2 separate regions of the Homo sapiens genome follow, and region 1 is linked to region 2. The links come from fine-mapping of genetic effects on gene expression. Tissue or cell type: testis. Region 2 holds a variant in brackets; the other region holds the start of a gene. All regions are shown on one strand. Distances are between the middles of the regions.

Region 1 (8,000 bases), 61 kb before region 2:
CAATTTAATTTTACATTAAAATTTCTATACCTTAAGGTGAAAACAAAAACCATACAAGATAAGCAGTAACCAATGTTACTGAAGTAAACACTCATTCATTCAGCAAATATTTATTCAGCACCTTCTTCAATCTAGGCAATGGATACAGTAGTGAACAAAACAAAAATCTCTGCCTTTTTGGAGTACTATCCTTAGGTGAAGATGGATGAATAAGCAGGTACACAATAAACTTGTAGAAATTTTTTTTTTTTTTTTTTTGAGGTGGAATCTCACTCTGTCGACCAGGCTGGAGTACAATGGCAGTGATCACGGATCACTACAACATCACCTTCCCGGTCTCAAGTAATCTTCCCACCTCAGCCTCCAAAGTAGCTAGGACTACAGGCACATGCCACCACGCCTGGCTCAATGTTTTGTAGAAATGGGGGTTTGCCATGTTGCCCAGGCTGGTTGTGGACTCCCAAGCTCAAGTAATTTGCCCACTGGTTGTGAACTCCCAAGCTCAAGCAATTTGCCCACTTCAGCCTCATAAAGTGGTGGAATTACAGGCATGAGCCACTGTGCCTGGCAGGAATAAATTTTATGGAAAAATTCAAGCAAAGGTGAGGGACTGAAGAGCTCCAAAGGTGAAGTATTATTACTTTATATGGGGTGGTAAAGGACTCTTTGACACAGTTACCTAAAGGAGGTGAGTCATGAGGTTATCTGGGGGCACAATATTCCAAAAAACTGCATATGCACAGGCTCCAAAGGGGGAATATAGTGTGTCTGATGTGTTGTGGGACAACGTGGGATGTAATTAGGCAAGAGGAAGAGTCTATAGTGAGATCCTGTGGGGCCCTGTAAAGAGTTTTACTGAGTGAAATGGAAAAAACTTGAGAAATGTTTTGAGCAGAACCACATTGATTACTACCTGGAGGGTGTTGGCAAGGAGACTATTTAGGTGGGTATCACAATGTAACACAGTGATTTACATGGGAGTGGTAGTCTGGATTTATTTGGCAGGTAGAAATGGTAAAATTTGCTTATAGAGTGAGGTATAAGATAGAAGTCAAGGGTAATCCCAAGGTTTTTCCCCTGAGTAAGTGAAAGAGTGGAATTTGCCATTTACTAAAATGAGAAAGATTGCAGTTAATTAGAAAAGACAGAAAATATTATATATTTGGTTTGAGATGTTTATTAACTTATAAGTGCAGGTGTTTTTTCTTAAAATCTGTTTTCTTGGGAGAGGTCTTAGCCAGAGATTAACATTTGTGAATCATCATTATAGGTGATATTAAAGACATCAGAGTGAAGAGGTTTATGGACTAACCCAGCAATACCAATACAGTCCTGGATCATCAACAATGAATCACATATACAATGGTGATCTGGTAGCAGAGCTGAAAAATTCCTATTGTCTAACAACGTTGTAGTTGTCACAACATTCAAGCACAAGACATTACCTTTTCTATGTTTACATACACAAATACTTAGCATTGTGTTACAATTGCCTACAGTATTCAGTACAGTAACATGCTATGCAGGTTGGTAGCCTAGAAGCAACAAATGCATTTTCATCATTATGCAAACACCATTTAGTGTACTTACACAAACCTAGATGTATAGCCTACTATAGCTTAGGTGTACAGTCTACTATACAATTGTAGCCTAGGTGTATAGTAGCCCATACATCTACGTTTGTGTAAGTACACTAGAAGATATTTGCAAAATGCTGAAATTGGCTAACAAGGTATTTCTCAGAAGGTATCACCATCGATGCATGACTGTATTTAGTTATGGTAGTGAGGAACAGATACCAGCAAAGGATCTGGGAAAGGTGAAACCATGAACCAAGACAAGAACTAGGAAGAGTGGTTTCTCAGAACCCAAATAAAGCTTTTCAAAGATCGAGAAGCGATAAACCCGACCGACACTGCTTCATTCAAAAAGAATGAAACTGTGGATCAGCCATTGTATTTGGTTGCATGGCTATTGCTGGCTTTCATAGAAGCTGTTTTGATGGAGTGGTAGGATGGACAAAAGCGTGAGTACCATATTCAAGAGAGAATGCAAGGTTCTCTCCCAAGAACTCTCAACAAGTTCCGCTGAAGAAAGATTAGCTGAGGTGGAGGAGATTGGAGAGGGGAAGAGAAAACAAATTACTTAGGGAATTTTGGGGGAACTTAGTGGGCAGCATTACGGGCAGCGCTAAGGAACCATTTAAAGTAAGACAAGTCCACACAGCTGTGTGCTTTTCTACAGTCTTGTTCAACTGCTGCATAACAACAGAATGTTGGAAGCAGGAATTAGTTTTAAAGTAAGATGGTATTGACGAGACGACAATAAAATACCTCTACTACAGAGCACAGCAATGTTCGGCCTGGTGGCTCACAGAAGCTGAGGCTCTTGAACGTCTGGGCACAGCATGAAAGCATCAAGCTTGAGAGACTGCAGGCCTTAACAAACTAGAAGTGCTAGAACGATGGTTCTAAACCAGGTCTTTTCTCACACAGCAAGCACAGCAATAGAGATTTATTTTATCTTATTTTTTAGACAGAGTCTCGCTCTGTTGCTCAGGCTCGAGTGCAACGGCACGATCTCGGCTTACTGCAACCTCCGCCTTCCGGGTTCAAGGGATTCTCCTGCCTCAGCCTCCCAAGTAGCTGGGATTACAGGCATGTGCCACCACGTCCGGCTAACTTTTTGTATTTTTAGTACAGACGGGGTTTCACCATGTTGGCCAGCCTGGACGCTAACTTCTGACCTCAGGTGATCCACCCCACTCGGCCTCCCAAAGTGCCGGGATTACAGGTGTGAGCCACCGCGCCCAGCCCAGTAGAGATTCTTTTAAAGACTGCGGTAGGTCGATAAAGGAGACATTGTGGCCTAGGAGCTTCAAGGTCTACAGACTGAACCCAGTTAGGGTAGGGCCCCTTTCCAAATCCAGAAATGGTATCTATTAATAGAAGGGCTCCCTCCGGGTCCCAGGGGGATGGACTACGGTTTTTAGCGCCGGAACTTACAACCCGAAGTTCTGCTGCTTGTGACTGCCTGCCGGAGAGACTGGCATGGTGGCGACCAGCTGGGGAGTGGTGCACCACCCCTTTTTTTGGCCGCCTCTGAAGTCCCTGTACCCCCAAGCTCCTCCGTTAGCGGCTCGGGCCGAGGCTCCGGAATGTTTGCCGGGCGTCATGGCGACGGTGGAGCCCTGGCTCAACAAGCGGCCGCGCGGTTGGCTGGCGGCACGAGGCCGAGGAGGAGGGCGGAGGCGGAGGGGAGGGCAGAGGGTTGGTGGAGCTGGAGGAAGCTCCGGACGACGACTGGAAGAAGGAGGCGGGCGGCCCGGGCCTCAGGCCCCTCCCAGGCTCTGAGTCTCCCGGCTGCAGGCGGATGGATGGGGCTTCTTCAGGCGGTGGCGGCAGCAGCGAAGGTGGCGGCGGCAGCAGCGGCAGCGGCTGTAAGTGCAGCCTCCACAAGCCATCTCTCCCCTTCTATTCCAGTTTGGGATGAGGGGCTCCTGAGGTGTCCTCAGTCCCCTTTCTCTCCTTCCCCTCCCCCACGGCAGTGTACCGCCCGGAAGACCCTTAACTTCCGGGGAGGGGCTGCCGCAGAACGCGCCTGGCTTGCTCTCCGCCGGCTGCCAAAGGCGCATGCGCAGCTTCCTCCCTCTGGCCATCGACTGCCTCCCAGCGCCGCCTTTTTGCCTTCGCGGTGGTGGCGCCGCGCTGGGAATCCGCTGCGGAGTGAGTTCGCCTCGCCCCGTTCGCTTCGGTCCCTGATCCCAGTCGGGGTGGGGCTAAGCTGACCACCCTGCTGTGGCTCCGCCTCTTTCTCCTGTATTTCCCTCACTTGTGTCCCATCCCCGGGAGGCTCTCGCTTGCACTGCAGCCTTTATGGTGAGCAGCGCCCTGGGCCAACTTGCCCTTTTCGGATGGAGTCAGGGAGGGAGGAGAGACTCGAATAGGGTATTACTGTAAGGAAACGAGGTCCTCCTAGCGCGTGGGAGGATCCCTTGGGACAGATGCCCGCCGCTCTTTACTCTTGTTCTTTCAGCTTGTAGTGGCTAGGTCCCTGGCCTGGAGCCTATCTGTGGTCCCTGCATGCTGTGTAACCTTGAGCGAGTCACTATCCCTCTCTGGGCTTCAGTTTTCCCTATTTAAAGCTTCCTCCAACGCTAGAATTCTGCATTTCTGCAGAAGAACTTATGTAATTACAAGATTGACTTGGCTATTGAGGCCGCTTCACCAAGATGACCCGGAGTTGACTGAACCTTCTTCACTTATGGGTGGAATGAGGCGACCTATTTATTGGGTCGCTTTTATTCCTTTATCATTAGTTACAAATTGCATGACTTAAGGCTCATTAAATGTTTTTCTAAAATTGTCATGGGATCCTTGTCCTGATTCCCGACCATCTTTTTAAAAATGCGAAACAGGGTGGATGGTGAGCTTGTATCATCGTTTCTGTCTCCTTGCTACTGAGGCTCTCTTTCCTTTGATCCAGATGGTGTGGTCGCTCGATTCTCCCAGTGCCTGGCTGAGTTTCGGACGTGGTTAAGAACCAACTGGTTGAGGTTCAATGCAGACAAGACGGATGTGATGCTGGTAGGCAGGGGTACACTTGGAGATTAAGGGAGGGAAAATCCAAACTCCCTCAAGTAATATAAGATTATATTACTCTTCTTATATGTTCCAGTGTTTGAGAACTGATGGGCCAAAAATTTCCAGAATTTGGGTGAGATAAAAATAACATGTCATCAATGTAAAAACCATAATCATAGTTTGTAATATTCTGATAAAATGGGGCCACTGGATAAAACTGTAAAAATTATGAAAAGAAAATCCAAAACTGTTATTTGAAGAACCAAAAGCCTATATAAGTGTTTTAGAGTGGCATTAATAACAAAAAATGAAACTAACGAAAGATGATGCTGATTGTCACTATAGATGTGGGGCTTCCAAATGTAATAGGCTAAGTTTTTTAGATGTAGGTATTTTCAACCAAATTAGTAATTATCCATAAAATTTTACCACCACATCATAAAGACATGGTGTAGGCTGTTGCTTTTAAATAAAAATTTCAGGAAATAGTTTATAAACTAATCTCAAAAGAGACTCATGGACGCTGAAAATTGTTAGATATAGAATTTTTTAGTTTTGGATGTGTTGTATTAATCTATTTCAGTCAGCTAACCCCAGAGTCTAAATTGTTATAAGTACAGTATTTTCTTGGTGCATTTTGAGAGGTACCTTTTTGGATTGCATAACAGATAGGTTTATATAGTATATATATATATGTTACTTGTATTTGAATCAGGTGTTGGTACTGAATAAAAGGTTATATTTCTTAGGTATATGTAAATTGCCAAAGAAGTTTGTTCATTGGTTCGTTTAAGGTACTGGTTGAAGTAAGATTGTGCTCCTAAATGCTTTTGTTAAAAGCATAATAATAACTGAGGGGTTTGTGTGTGCGTGCGCCTTATAGCCTCTATAGAATTGTTCAATAACTTTTGAATGGAAGATTCAGTAAATTGCTTACAAATGATTTATCAATATAATAGCAGTTTTGAGTAGCTTAATGTCATAAAAATTAATGTTACTTTGCCTGAAAATAAGGAGGCTTTTAGGTGGGGAATAGGAGCTGAAGAGGCATTTATTCAGGCTTTGTATAGTGGTTTTTTGTTTTGGGACATTAATCACAAACCTCACATAAAATTGGAATTCAGCACACTTTTTTAGTTTAAAAATTTTATACACAATTCCAACAGAACTACTGTTTTGGATATCACATTAATAAATAACAAAGTGTAATAATTTTAAGCAGACACAATTAATGGTGCATTTTCTTATGCCTTTAGCTCTCTCATGTCCTATTTTCAACTCTTCTAGTATGAATAGGCTTTAAAAATAAATTTTTTTTTGTTAACCCAAGTATAAATATTAACTGTTTGCATTTGGATACAAAGAAGATATCTGTTGAATTAATCCAAAGTGCTGAAGAACTAAGGGTAATGGATGGAAACAACAAGGAGGTAGATTCTGGCATAATAAAAGAAAGAATGTTTTAAACATTTGAACTTTTTTTGAAAAGAGCAGCCTTTTTATGAGATATAGTGAGTCACTGGAGGGGTTTAAACATAGGCAGAAAGCCTGGTAGTAGAAGCATGATGAGAGATTACTATCTTGACAGGGTAGAGAATTGACTAAAAGATCTCTAAGGTCCCATCCAACACTAAAATTCTATAACTAGTGAATAGTTAATTTTTATATATTTAATACTGAAGAGGGTAAGTAAGCGTTTTGAGAAAGACTTTTCATTCCGTAAGGTGGCTCCTGAAAATTTTACAGTTAGGTGTATCACTAAAATAAAATAATAGTGGAAGGATACTGAATTCAGTGGTAATGTGTTACCTATGAATTGCAGTATTAGAGCTGTTTCTTTTTTATAATATCTGAACCTAAAAAACCCACTGAATCCACATTTATAAAAAGGGGAAGGGGAAAAATGTAGAGAGTTTTTTTCCCTCAATAATAATAATACCATTTAAAACTAGTAATATTGATACACAATATTAATAAACTTAAAGAGTTATTTAACAGTAAGATAGATACCCATTCAGAAATGTTTCAGACTTCCATTTTCCTGACAAGTTTAGGATTCATTCAGTAGGTTAATAGACTATGATCCCCTGCTCTTTATCATAGTTGGGATTTCTGTTGGTAGTTTAACTGAAGAATCAAAGATTCAGTGTACTTAAGCAAGTTATTTCTGTACCTTGTATTGTAACACTTTTAATTTTCCTTTGGTAGCCAAATTTCATAAATTAGCTTTCATATGTTAATGGAAAACCCTCCTTCATCTCCATGGTATAAAGCCTGAGTTTGTACCTCTAGGCCCCTAATTGTGTCTGTACCCACCTCAGGTCCATGTATATCCATTGTTCTTTGCCTTCAGCTCTTTTCATTAAGTGTATTGATTGAAAACTATTTGGATATGAACTGACACTTTTAAAAAGTCATTTTTATTTCAAGTCCAGAGGATTGACATAATTCAACAGGGTAACTATTAGAAACTATATACCTCTGCTAAAATATTTATTCCCCCAAGGAATCCTGAAAAACACTTTTATATAAGTTTTCTAAAAAATAAAATGAAAATACTGTACAGTACAGTTAATGGTAAAAATTGTTTGTAGATTTGGGAACCTTAAAGTTTTCCTTTCTCTTCTTTCCCTTGCTTTTCTTTCAGTAGAAAATGTGCATCAGATGTTTATGTTTAATTGGTTTACAGACTGTCTGTGGACTCTTTTCCTGTCAAATTACCAGGTAATGTCCTTTCACTTAGCAGCTACTTCATATATCTGTAAATGCAGTTTATTCATGCACAGATTATTATTGGACATAACAGTTTCAAATTAACATTGAATCTTTGGAAATAGGAAAATGCTTGATAGAGTCTAGAATTTTAAGGGAATATAAATAATTTAATAGCCTCCCCTATATTGCATTATAAGTTAAGTATTAACTTTAAGAAAAATTGTATATGTACACATTTATGCAATGTAGTATTGGTTCACATTATTTGGAAGGAATGAATAATTCTCGTATTTAAATGGTTGATTTTGGTAGCCACTTTTGAAACTGCATTAAGAGGAACCCTTGAAGATTAGGAAAAAAATCCCAGTCTTTTGAAATAAAGACTTTCAAACTGGTTTAGTAAAATATGTTAGTGACTGTTTTAATGTCACCTTTGTGTTATTCAGTATGTGCCTTAGTATAATGGAAGTGAAACATGTTAGTTACTTTGAAATCATTGGTTCTGGCCATCATCAGCATTGGCATCACGGCCAATTGGCAGCTGTAGGCCAATACATTAAAATAAACTTTCAAGTTACAGGCATTTCAGGCATTGCAAATAAGTAGGTTCTCCCTCCATGCTACTAAATAGATGATATCCATAAAACAGTCAATTTTCAGTATTTTAAATTTTGTCTAGTTGTGCAAAATTCAGTACATAAC
Region 2 (8,268 bases):
AAACCAAACAAACAAAACTTAGGGCCCAGTAACTATGTCCTGGTCCAAGAAGGTTTATTGACTTGATGTCTAATGTTTGTCACGTCCATTCTGAAGTAGAATAAGATGCTGAGACTCTGACCTTGGGACTAACCGTATAGGCTCAAGGGAGGCAGACAGTTGGTACTACTATTGTTTTTCCTGTTTGTTCTTAACATATTAACACCAAATCATTTTCTTTTCCTTTTTAAGAAACTATTTGATGAGAACATGCTGTTAGGCTAGGAAAGTGTTCATAAGTTACTTATAAATTACTTGTAGCTCAAAAGCCACTCAACATTACGTACAGTCAAAACTGCCAGCTTTTTCAAAGGAAGGAAGGAACTTTTCATCCCAATGTTATATTACTTTTTTATATGGGGCTTTAATTAGTACTTTGAAATCTTACAGTTATTTTTGACCTAATCACAGTCGTCAGCTAGCTTTTTGGACTTGTTCCTACAGAATTGTTCTCTTCAATATATTATGATGCATAATCCCCATGTGCATTCATGATTTGAGTGCATTGAGTTGGTCAAAATAGAATATTTTCTTCTATCAGAATACAGTATTTGAGGCTCATCCTTTATGCCGAATATTTTTCAAGCAATTAAATTGTAATTATTCAGTGATGCACCCTATATTTTACTTCTTATCACCAAAATTTGCATTCCATTTTACAGTCAACTCTAAAATGAACTTTTGTTTTCTTTTATTAGAATAATTTTGCTTTTACTTTTCTCACCTACTATAGAATTTGTATTTACTTTTTAAGTAATTTGTATTTACTTAAGTAAATAATTTAGCACTTTCAAGTATATGCTTGGATAGTGCGGCATTAGTTTTTTAACATTATGACAGATTATTTAAGTCTACTTAGGTAAATAGTGTGTGATCATCTTTTTTTTCTTTTTGAGACAGAGTCTCGCTTTGTCGCCCAGGCTGGAATGCAGTGGCACAATCTCGGCTCACTGCAACCTCCGCCTCCTGGGTTCAAGTGATTCTGCTGCCTCAGCCTTCCGAGTAGCTGGGAGACGGTGCACGCCACCACTCCTGGCTAATTTTTGTATTTTTAGTAGAGACAAGTTTTCACCCTATTGGCCAGGCTGGTCTTGAACTCCTGACCTCATGATACACCCGCCTTGGCCTCCCAAAGTGCTGGGAATACAGGCGTGAGCCACTGCACCCAGCCTTGTGTGATCTTTTAAAGTACAGTTCCCATAGATTTACATTAAGAATAAAAAAGTCATGACATCTTGCTTTTATATGGCAGTTTACTCAAGCTTTTTAAAGAAAGAGCATTCATCTTGCTTTTACGTGGTTTTAGAATGTTGAAAACCTTTTGTTAAATCTGAGTAATTTACTGCATTTTCCATTAATTCAGCTTAGTTAGACTGCTGGATCCAGTGCTTGTTTGCTGTCACATATACCTAATATGCTTTTAACATATGCCAAATTCTGTTCTTAGTTCTTTACATTTATTAACTTATTTAATTTTCACAACAACCCTGTGAGGAATATCTATTATGATCTTCATTGTATATATGTAATGAAATGGAGATACAGAAAGAGTAAATAATTTGCCTAAGGCGACATAGCTTATAAGTAATAGAGCAAGAATTTAGACTATGTATTTGATACCTTGCTTCCTTGATAACAATAACTACAAGCTGTTTTATAATAGTTTGCAAATTTAACTTTTTTCTAATTGTGGTTTCATTTATATTTCTTTCAACTTAGGAGTGTCATCTAATGGACCAGGTGAAATATTAAACAAAGAGGAAGTAAAAGTTGAAGGGTTACACATTAATGGACCAACAGGTGGAAATAAGAAACCACTTCATGCAGATATGGATACTAATGGTTATGAAACAGATAACCTTACCACTGACCCAAAACTTGCCCATATGACTGCAAGAAATGAAAATGATTTTGATGAAAAAAGTGAGAGACCTGCCAAAAGGCGAAGGGTAAACAGCAATGGAAAAGAAAGTCCAGGTTCTTCTGAATTTTTCCAAGAAGCAGTCTCACATGGGAAATTTGAAGAACTTGAAAACACAGATGACTAAATTTTAGACCTATTTTACTTTCTTTGGAGTAAATTCTGGTGTGACTAAAATTTTCAGGGTTGATGGGTTACCTTAAAAAGTTGATTTCCTTGAAGCAGTTTGAAAATTTGAATTGAGTCTTAACTTTAGGAAATGAGGTTTCATAATTCTGCCTTTTGCAGATTTTTTTACTTTAAAGCTGTCAGACTCTTTTAAGGGTATTTTAAAAATTAGTAAATTTGAATGAACTAAAGATATATCTCTACCTTCTCATTTGAATATCTTTAGTTCATTCAGATTTACTAATTTTGGTAAATCTGAATGAACTAAAGATGTATCTGTACCTTCTCATTTGATGTATTAATCATAAAATTTCACTACAAGGTAATTTTTGCTTAGTTTGATGGATGAATGGGAAACTCAAGTCCAAATTTCTGCTTAATACCAATTTCTCTGAGTTTCTTGAAATGTCTTTAAAACAGACATTTTTCTCACCAAACAGTTTGAGTATCTTTATTAAGGAAACCCTTACGAATCCTGAAAATTATGCTAGCATGATTTTTTTATATATAGAAGTTTAAAAATAAACCAGGTCAGGTTTGTATATGTAAAATTGTTGACATCAATGATGTCTTTCCATATTCTTATCTGGGCTTAAGAAATACATTCTGTATTTTTCCAGATTCTTTGTAGCCTTTGAAAGATTTTTACAGTACATATGTCTTGACTGAGCTGTCCTTTCTTAATACAAAAGCGTGTATAATTTTCTTAACTTGTACAGTTGGTAAACTTTTATGAGAGGAATTGTTATTCTGAGTCTGTCAGCTTTCATTTTATTTTGCTAAGGTTTTTCTAATGAATTTTTAAGTGTTTGTGTAGTAATTAAGTCATATTTCTTATCCAGGTGGTTAAAGCATTCATAAAGGATTATAAAATTTTTTTTTTTTTTTTTTTTTTTAAATTTCTACTTAAGGGCAAGTAATTTGAGAATTCTGAAATTAAGCATGATGCTTAGATTGCAGTTTGTTTTGCATTTGCTATAATTTTCAAAATTATTTTTGAAGCAAGACAAAAGTTTAATGTCAGCTTAAGTGCTTAAATATATCATGCTGACCAGAATCCTGTTATTTTTATATGCATCATAAAATTTCCCATTTCTGCATTAAATAAACAGAGGAGGGGGGTCAAGTGATACTTAGATATTGGCACACACAAGGAACAACTGTTGGCAGGCAGTATCGATTTTATGAAGAGAAAGTGAAGTTTGAAAACTTTTCAAACTTTTCTAGTTACAATCCAATTTTTCAGATTTGATAATGCTTTTCCAAAGTGAAAATAAGATACACAATAATCATTGCTCTGTGTGATTACAGATAGGATTATCCATCTGCATAGCCTTGTAAAAGTGCCATTTTATTTTTAGTGCTAAATTCTTGTTAAATAATGTAGTTTTATATAGCTGATAGACCAACCTATATCCAAACTTTTATAAAATATTAATTATTCTTGTTTTTCTCACACAGGCATACTCCAAATGCTTCTTCCAGTTCATTTTTCAGCCATCAGTTCAAGAGCCAATGCCTTTTTAAAATAAAGCTTCTGTGGTCTTGTTTTTAATGGCTCAACTGTCTGATGTAATTGAGTGAAGGTTTGCACTGAGAAATTAGCATTCAGGCCTTACCCCCATGAAGTATTACTGTTAACATATGTTCGGACTGCTTCCCTTCACCAATGTGAACAACTTTTTTTCCCAAACAGTGTTAAAAGCCACTTTGCAACACTTGACTTCATCTTAATGTACATTCACTGTTGTTACATACATATCTAAGTAAATCAAAGTTTTGGGTGGAAGTGTTGAGAAGTATGAGTTTTTTGTTGTTTTTGTTTTACTTAAAACTTTTAATTTATCCAGAATGGCAGTAGCTTTAGCAAGCAGATGGTCACAATCTGTTTTCTAAATCATTTTTTATTAAATGAATCCAAAGTATCCTAGCTCTTTGTCAAAGATGGTCTGTAGAAATGTTTTTAAAGATTAGGGATGCTGTACTTTTTGAATTGTTGCAGTGTTGGAGATGCCATTTTCACCTTTTTAAAAAGATGCATTTTATTTGCAGGTTTGTGAAGTTCTTGCAAACTCTTACTACAGAAATGTTTTAAATACATTCTCAGGCATGTTTGCAAAAATATGGCACATGTATACATTTTAGGAAATGTTACTTTTGTTAATCTTTAAAAAATACACCTAATGAAAGACATTCCACTATTATGCGTAATGCTCAGCTTTTTGTAAAGAAATATTTAATTGTATTTTGTGTTTATACAGGTATTTCACACAATAATTTGTTCTTAATGCAGCCACTATAACTTGATAAGTCATTGCACTATTTAAAAAGTTTTAGTAATATCATGAATTTAATTTGCTTAAGATTTAGTACATTTCAGAACTTTTGAACTTTTGACAAATTGCATTGG[A/G]AAAAGAAGTCTGTTAATAGTGATTTAGTCTCCCCGCCTCATTCCCACCCCCAACAAAGCACTATCATTTTCATTTGGAATGGGTATTTTCTGTTTCATGATGTATTTTCAAATAGAGTTCAGGATCTGCAATTCAGTTCAACACAAGTTTGTTGAGCTTTAAAATGTATTTGAAGTAATATTTAAATAGGCATTTAAAATTTCAAATTAGATGTTAAATTTATGCATAGTAATTTTGCACTGTAAAATAATTCCCTTCTCCCATTCCTTGTCTGCCATTCTGAATATGCTTATTAAAATATTTTTTTAAACATATTTGCCTACATAATACTGTGTGAATATTTTCATTAGATTAATTCACTAAGATTTTATTAGAGATTGTTTGAATGATGCATGTTATTGACAAGGCAAATATATATATATACACAGTCTGTTTCTTCTATTCCTAGACATATTGCACTACTTTTTCAGTGGTTCTTGGTCCCCTTTACCACATCTTGGGTGATGTATTTTTGTCTTCTTCCCCTTTGCCACAAGAGATCCTTTCAGTCCCTAGACCTCCATTCACTCTGTTTCTCTTCTGCTGGATTATATAATTTAAAAATAATGTGTTCCCGTATTTTGTAGTGGAGTTCATATCACATTATGTTTTGCAAAATAAAACTTGTTTTGTCACAATATTTTCTTTGCTATCGATGGATAATTAGGAGTGGGCACTTGGAATAACTGAGGGCTGGTGAATATAATAGGCAATATTTACATGGGGTGTGTAACTAAATACCAAATCAGATAGTAAGGTTTTCCCAACTATAATCCATATTCATGAAAAATGCCAGTGTGGAAAACCATGTAACATACAGAAGAACAGGAGTTTCCAAATTTTAACCTTTTATTCTAAAAATGACTCTCTTCTCTCAAAATGACTTTTTCTGTATCACATAATTCTACTGATACAACTTTTTACCGTAAAAATTAACTCTCTTCTTTAATATCAAGTTCATCCTTTGCAGAATCTTAAAGGGTTTTCCACACATCCATCCACCCACTTACAGACTGATTTCATGTATCTGAATATCTGATTAACCTTTCTTTTCTAATACCAGTTTTCCATAAACTCTTGTCATGTACCCTTAGTATTGTGCTGATCTTTTGCCAACTATACGGACGTGGAGTTTTTCCTTTTCAGAATATGATTATTTTCAATTTGTCTTTAGTTAGTATAAAGAATTATAGAATGTATAATGTAATTAAAATGTCATTTTGCTTGCTCTTGAGTAAGAAGTAATTTGAACACACTTTTAAAGGCTACTTATTCTGTGAAGAATATTGAAGAATTGCCATGTAAACGAGATGAGATGGATTCTAATTGTCCAAATTGATGGTGACAGTTTCACATTTAAATGTCAATGATGACAAGCTTTCATTATGTTTCCATATACTCTAATATCCAGCAAATATTTCGGCCTATACTTGTACCAGGTACTATGCTTGCTTGGCTTGTGGCTTCAGAGATGCGGCATGCCCTGTTCTTCAAGAAGGCAGCAAAGTGTTAATGGTAGAAAAGTAAAGTGTATTCTGAGTACAGAGACAGCAAAAAGAGGAATAGGCACGATCTCAAGAAAATGAGTTTACCTTCCTCTTTGCCATGTAAGTCTAGCTAAATATTTTTCTTTTGTCAAACTTCGTATTTGCTGGAAATTAACCAACATGAAATGCATGATTTTCCCTAAGAAATTTTGTCTTTTAAAAAAAAAATTTCCTGCAGAGCTGGTTCTACCATAACAGCAGCTGTGGATTATTTAGGACTCATCCCTTTTTTCTTGTCATTCACTGTTCCATGAGCACTACTATTTATTAGGTGGAGAATCGCCTGATTTTCTGAAGTTTGGAAGAGAGGACGCCTAATGCAAATTTGGCCTGGTTATAGAACATTCACTTTTTGGTATTCTCATCGTTGTTAACATGAATGGTTGACTGAATGTAGAGCTGGCTGTGTTGTTCTGCACACTGACTGGAATTTGTAGAGTTCAGGTAGTTCTAAAATAAATGGTTTCACTCAGCAAAGTTAGATGATCCCTGAAATTGACTTTGGATTAATATGAGGAATATATAAACTTCTAAAAAATTATTTGAGACGGTCTCAGTTGGCTGCGTAGGCTGGAGTGCAGTGGCAAGATCATGGCTCACTGCAGCCTTGACCTCCTTGGGCGCAGGTAATCCTCCCACCTCAGCCTCCTGAGTGGCTGGGTTTACAGTTGTGCACCACCATGCTCAGCTAATTTTTTTTATTATTTGTAGAGGTGAGGTCTCACTATGTTGCCCCGGCCACTCTGGAAATCCTGGGCTCGAGTGATCCTCCCGCCTCAGCCTCCCAGTGTTGGGATTACAGGCGTGAGCCACCATGTCTGAGCTTAAACATTTTTAAAAAGAAAACATACGGGCCTTAAATTGGGGGTGGTTTCTTCCAGAAACAAGATCAGGTAGAGAACTGCATCAGAATAGATTGATCTGAGCCACTTTAAATTCTTGACCAGAAAATCTAGATTTAGGTTAAGAGCTTGTTCCCAAGAGGGGCTTTTCAAATTCCTTAGTCTACTCTTGTCACCAGCTGTGCTTTAGCTGAGTGAACATGAGAAACTAGTTCTGCTTAGGAGCTAATAGTGGTGCCAGTCATTCTAAGTGTATCCTTTTTTATTATTTTTGAAAGGTACTCCCTTAATCCCCTCTAAGCACATATTTGTACATGACAGAAATTTACTTGGGTGGCTGGTGGTTTTGAGCTTTCAAACATCCTGAATTATAAGCTTTATGAACTGCTCTGCTGTGTGGCCTCCTTTGTTGTCTTATGCATTTGCCTCTAGTGTTTAGTAGACAAATGTTTGCATTTAAAAAACACACCATGAACATACGTGGACTACATCTGCAATTTTTCTTTTTTCCGGAGACAACGTCTTGCTCTGTTGCCCATGCTGGAGTGCAGTGGTATGATCACTGCTCACTGCAGCCTCAACCTCTCTGACTGAAGGGAATCCTCCCACCTCAGCCTCCCAAGTGGCTGGGACAGGTGTGCGCCACCACGCCCTAATTTTTATTTTTTTGTAGACAGGGTTTTGCTGTGTTGCCAGGGCTAGTCTCAAACTCCTGGGTTCAAGCAATCCGCCTGCCCCAGCCTCCCAAAGTGTTGGGATTACAGGTGTGACCACCACACCTGGCCACAAAATTCTTGTAGCTAGTGCTAGTAGGTTAGAATAAAACAACTCACTTAGGATTGCAGCAGATGGGAGTTGTAGTAGAACCTTTGAAAACAATGATACCAGTTTTGGCAAAGGGATCTATTTTCGTGTATATGTATAGTTAGTTAGGAAAAGTAATGAAGGTCATATGCCAAAAGTAACGGTTGTTTTTGAGTGGTGGACTTAGAGTGGCCAGACCCCCTTATTAAAGAAGTCTCATAGCACTTGTCCCAGGTGCCATTTGGTTTTGCATGACTATTTCCCCCTCCGACAGTAAGCCTCCTGAAGGGGAGGGTCGAGTCTGTTTTCCTCACCATCATACACCCACATCCAAGCACAGTGCCTCTTCCCTTACTCACTGAACATATTAGCATATAGGTTATAGCATAGCCTATAATCATTTGTCTCTCCTGCTTAGGGCCTAACTCTGGCTACTCTTTCCAGTGATTGTTCTATTCTGCCTTTGGGGATACATCCTGAGTTGCCCTTTGTACCGC

Evidence for each region. PIP is the estimated chance that this variant, and not a neighbour inherited with it, causes the effect.
Region 1: MIER1 starts here. The variant in region 2 is fine-mapped to the expression of MIER1 in testis (GTEx, PIP 0.94).

The regions. Positions count from the first base shown.
Region 1 is chr1:66,921,657-66,929,656 of GRCh38, forward strand. MIER1 (MIER1 transcriptional regulator) reads left to right here and starts at 3,334. Exons shown (of 14, transcript NM_001077700.3): 1 at 3,334-3,439; 2 at 4,486-4,586. The coding sequence starts at 3,373. It overlaps DNAI4 (dynein axonemal intermediate chain 4), which reads right to left and starts at 3,200. Exons shown (of 17, transcript NM_024763.5): 1 at 3,006-3,200. The coding sequence starts at 3,175. RefSeq lists enhancers at 2,903-3,062, 3,353-3,632 and a silencer at 3,203-3,322.
Region 2 is chr1:66,982,814-66,991,081 of GRCh38, forward strand. MIER1 (MIER1 transcriptional regulator) reads left to right here. Exons shown (of 14, transcript NM_001077700.3): 14 at 1,759-5,806. The coding sequence ends at 2,087. It also overlaps a transcript of SLC35D1 not described here. Among named protein-coding and RNA genes, the nearest start is that of MIER1, 62 kb to the left of the region's middle. RefSeq lists silencers at 1,723-1,772, 1,760-1,960. The variant A/G (reference allele first, on the strand shown) is at 4,539.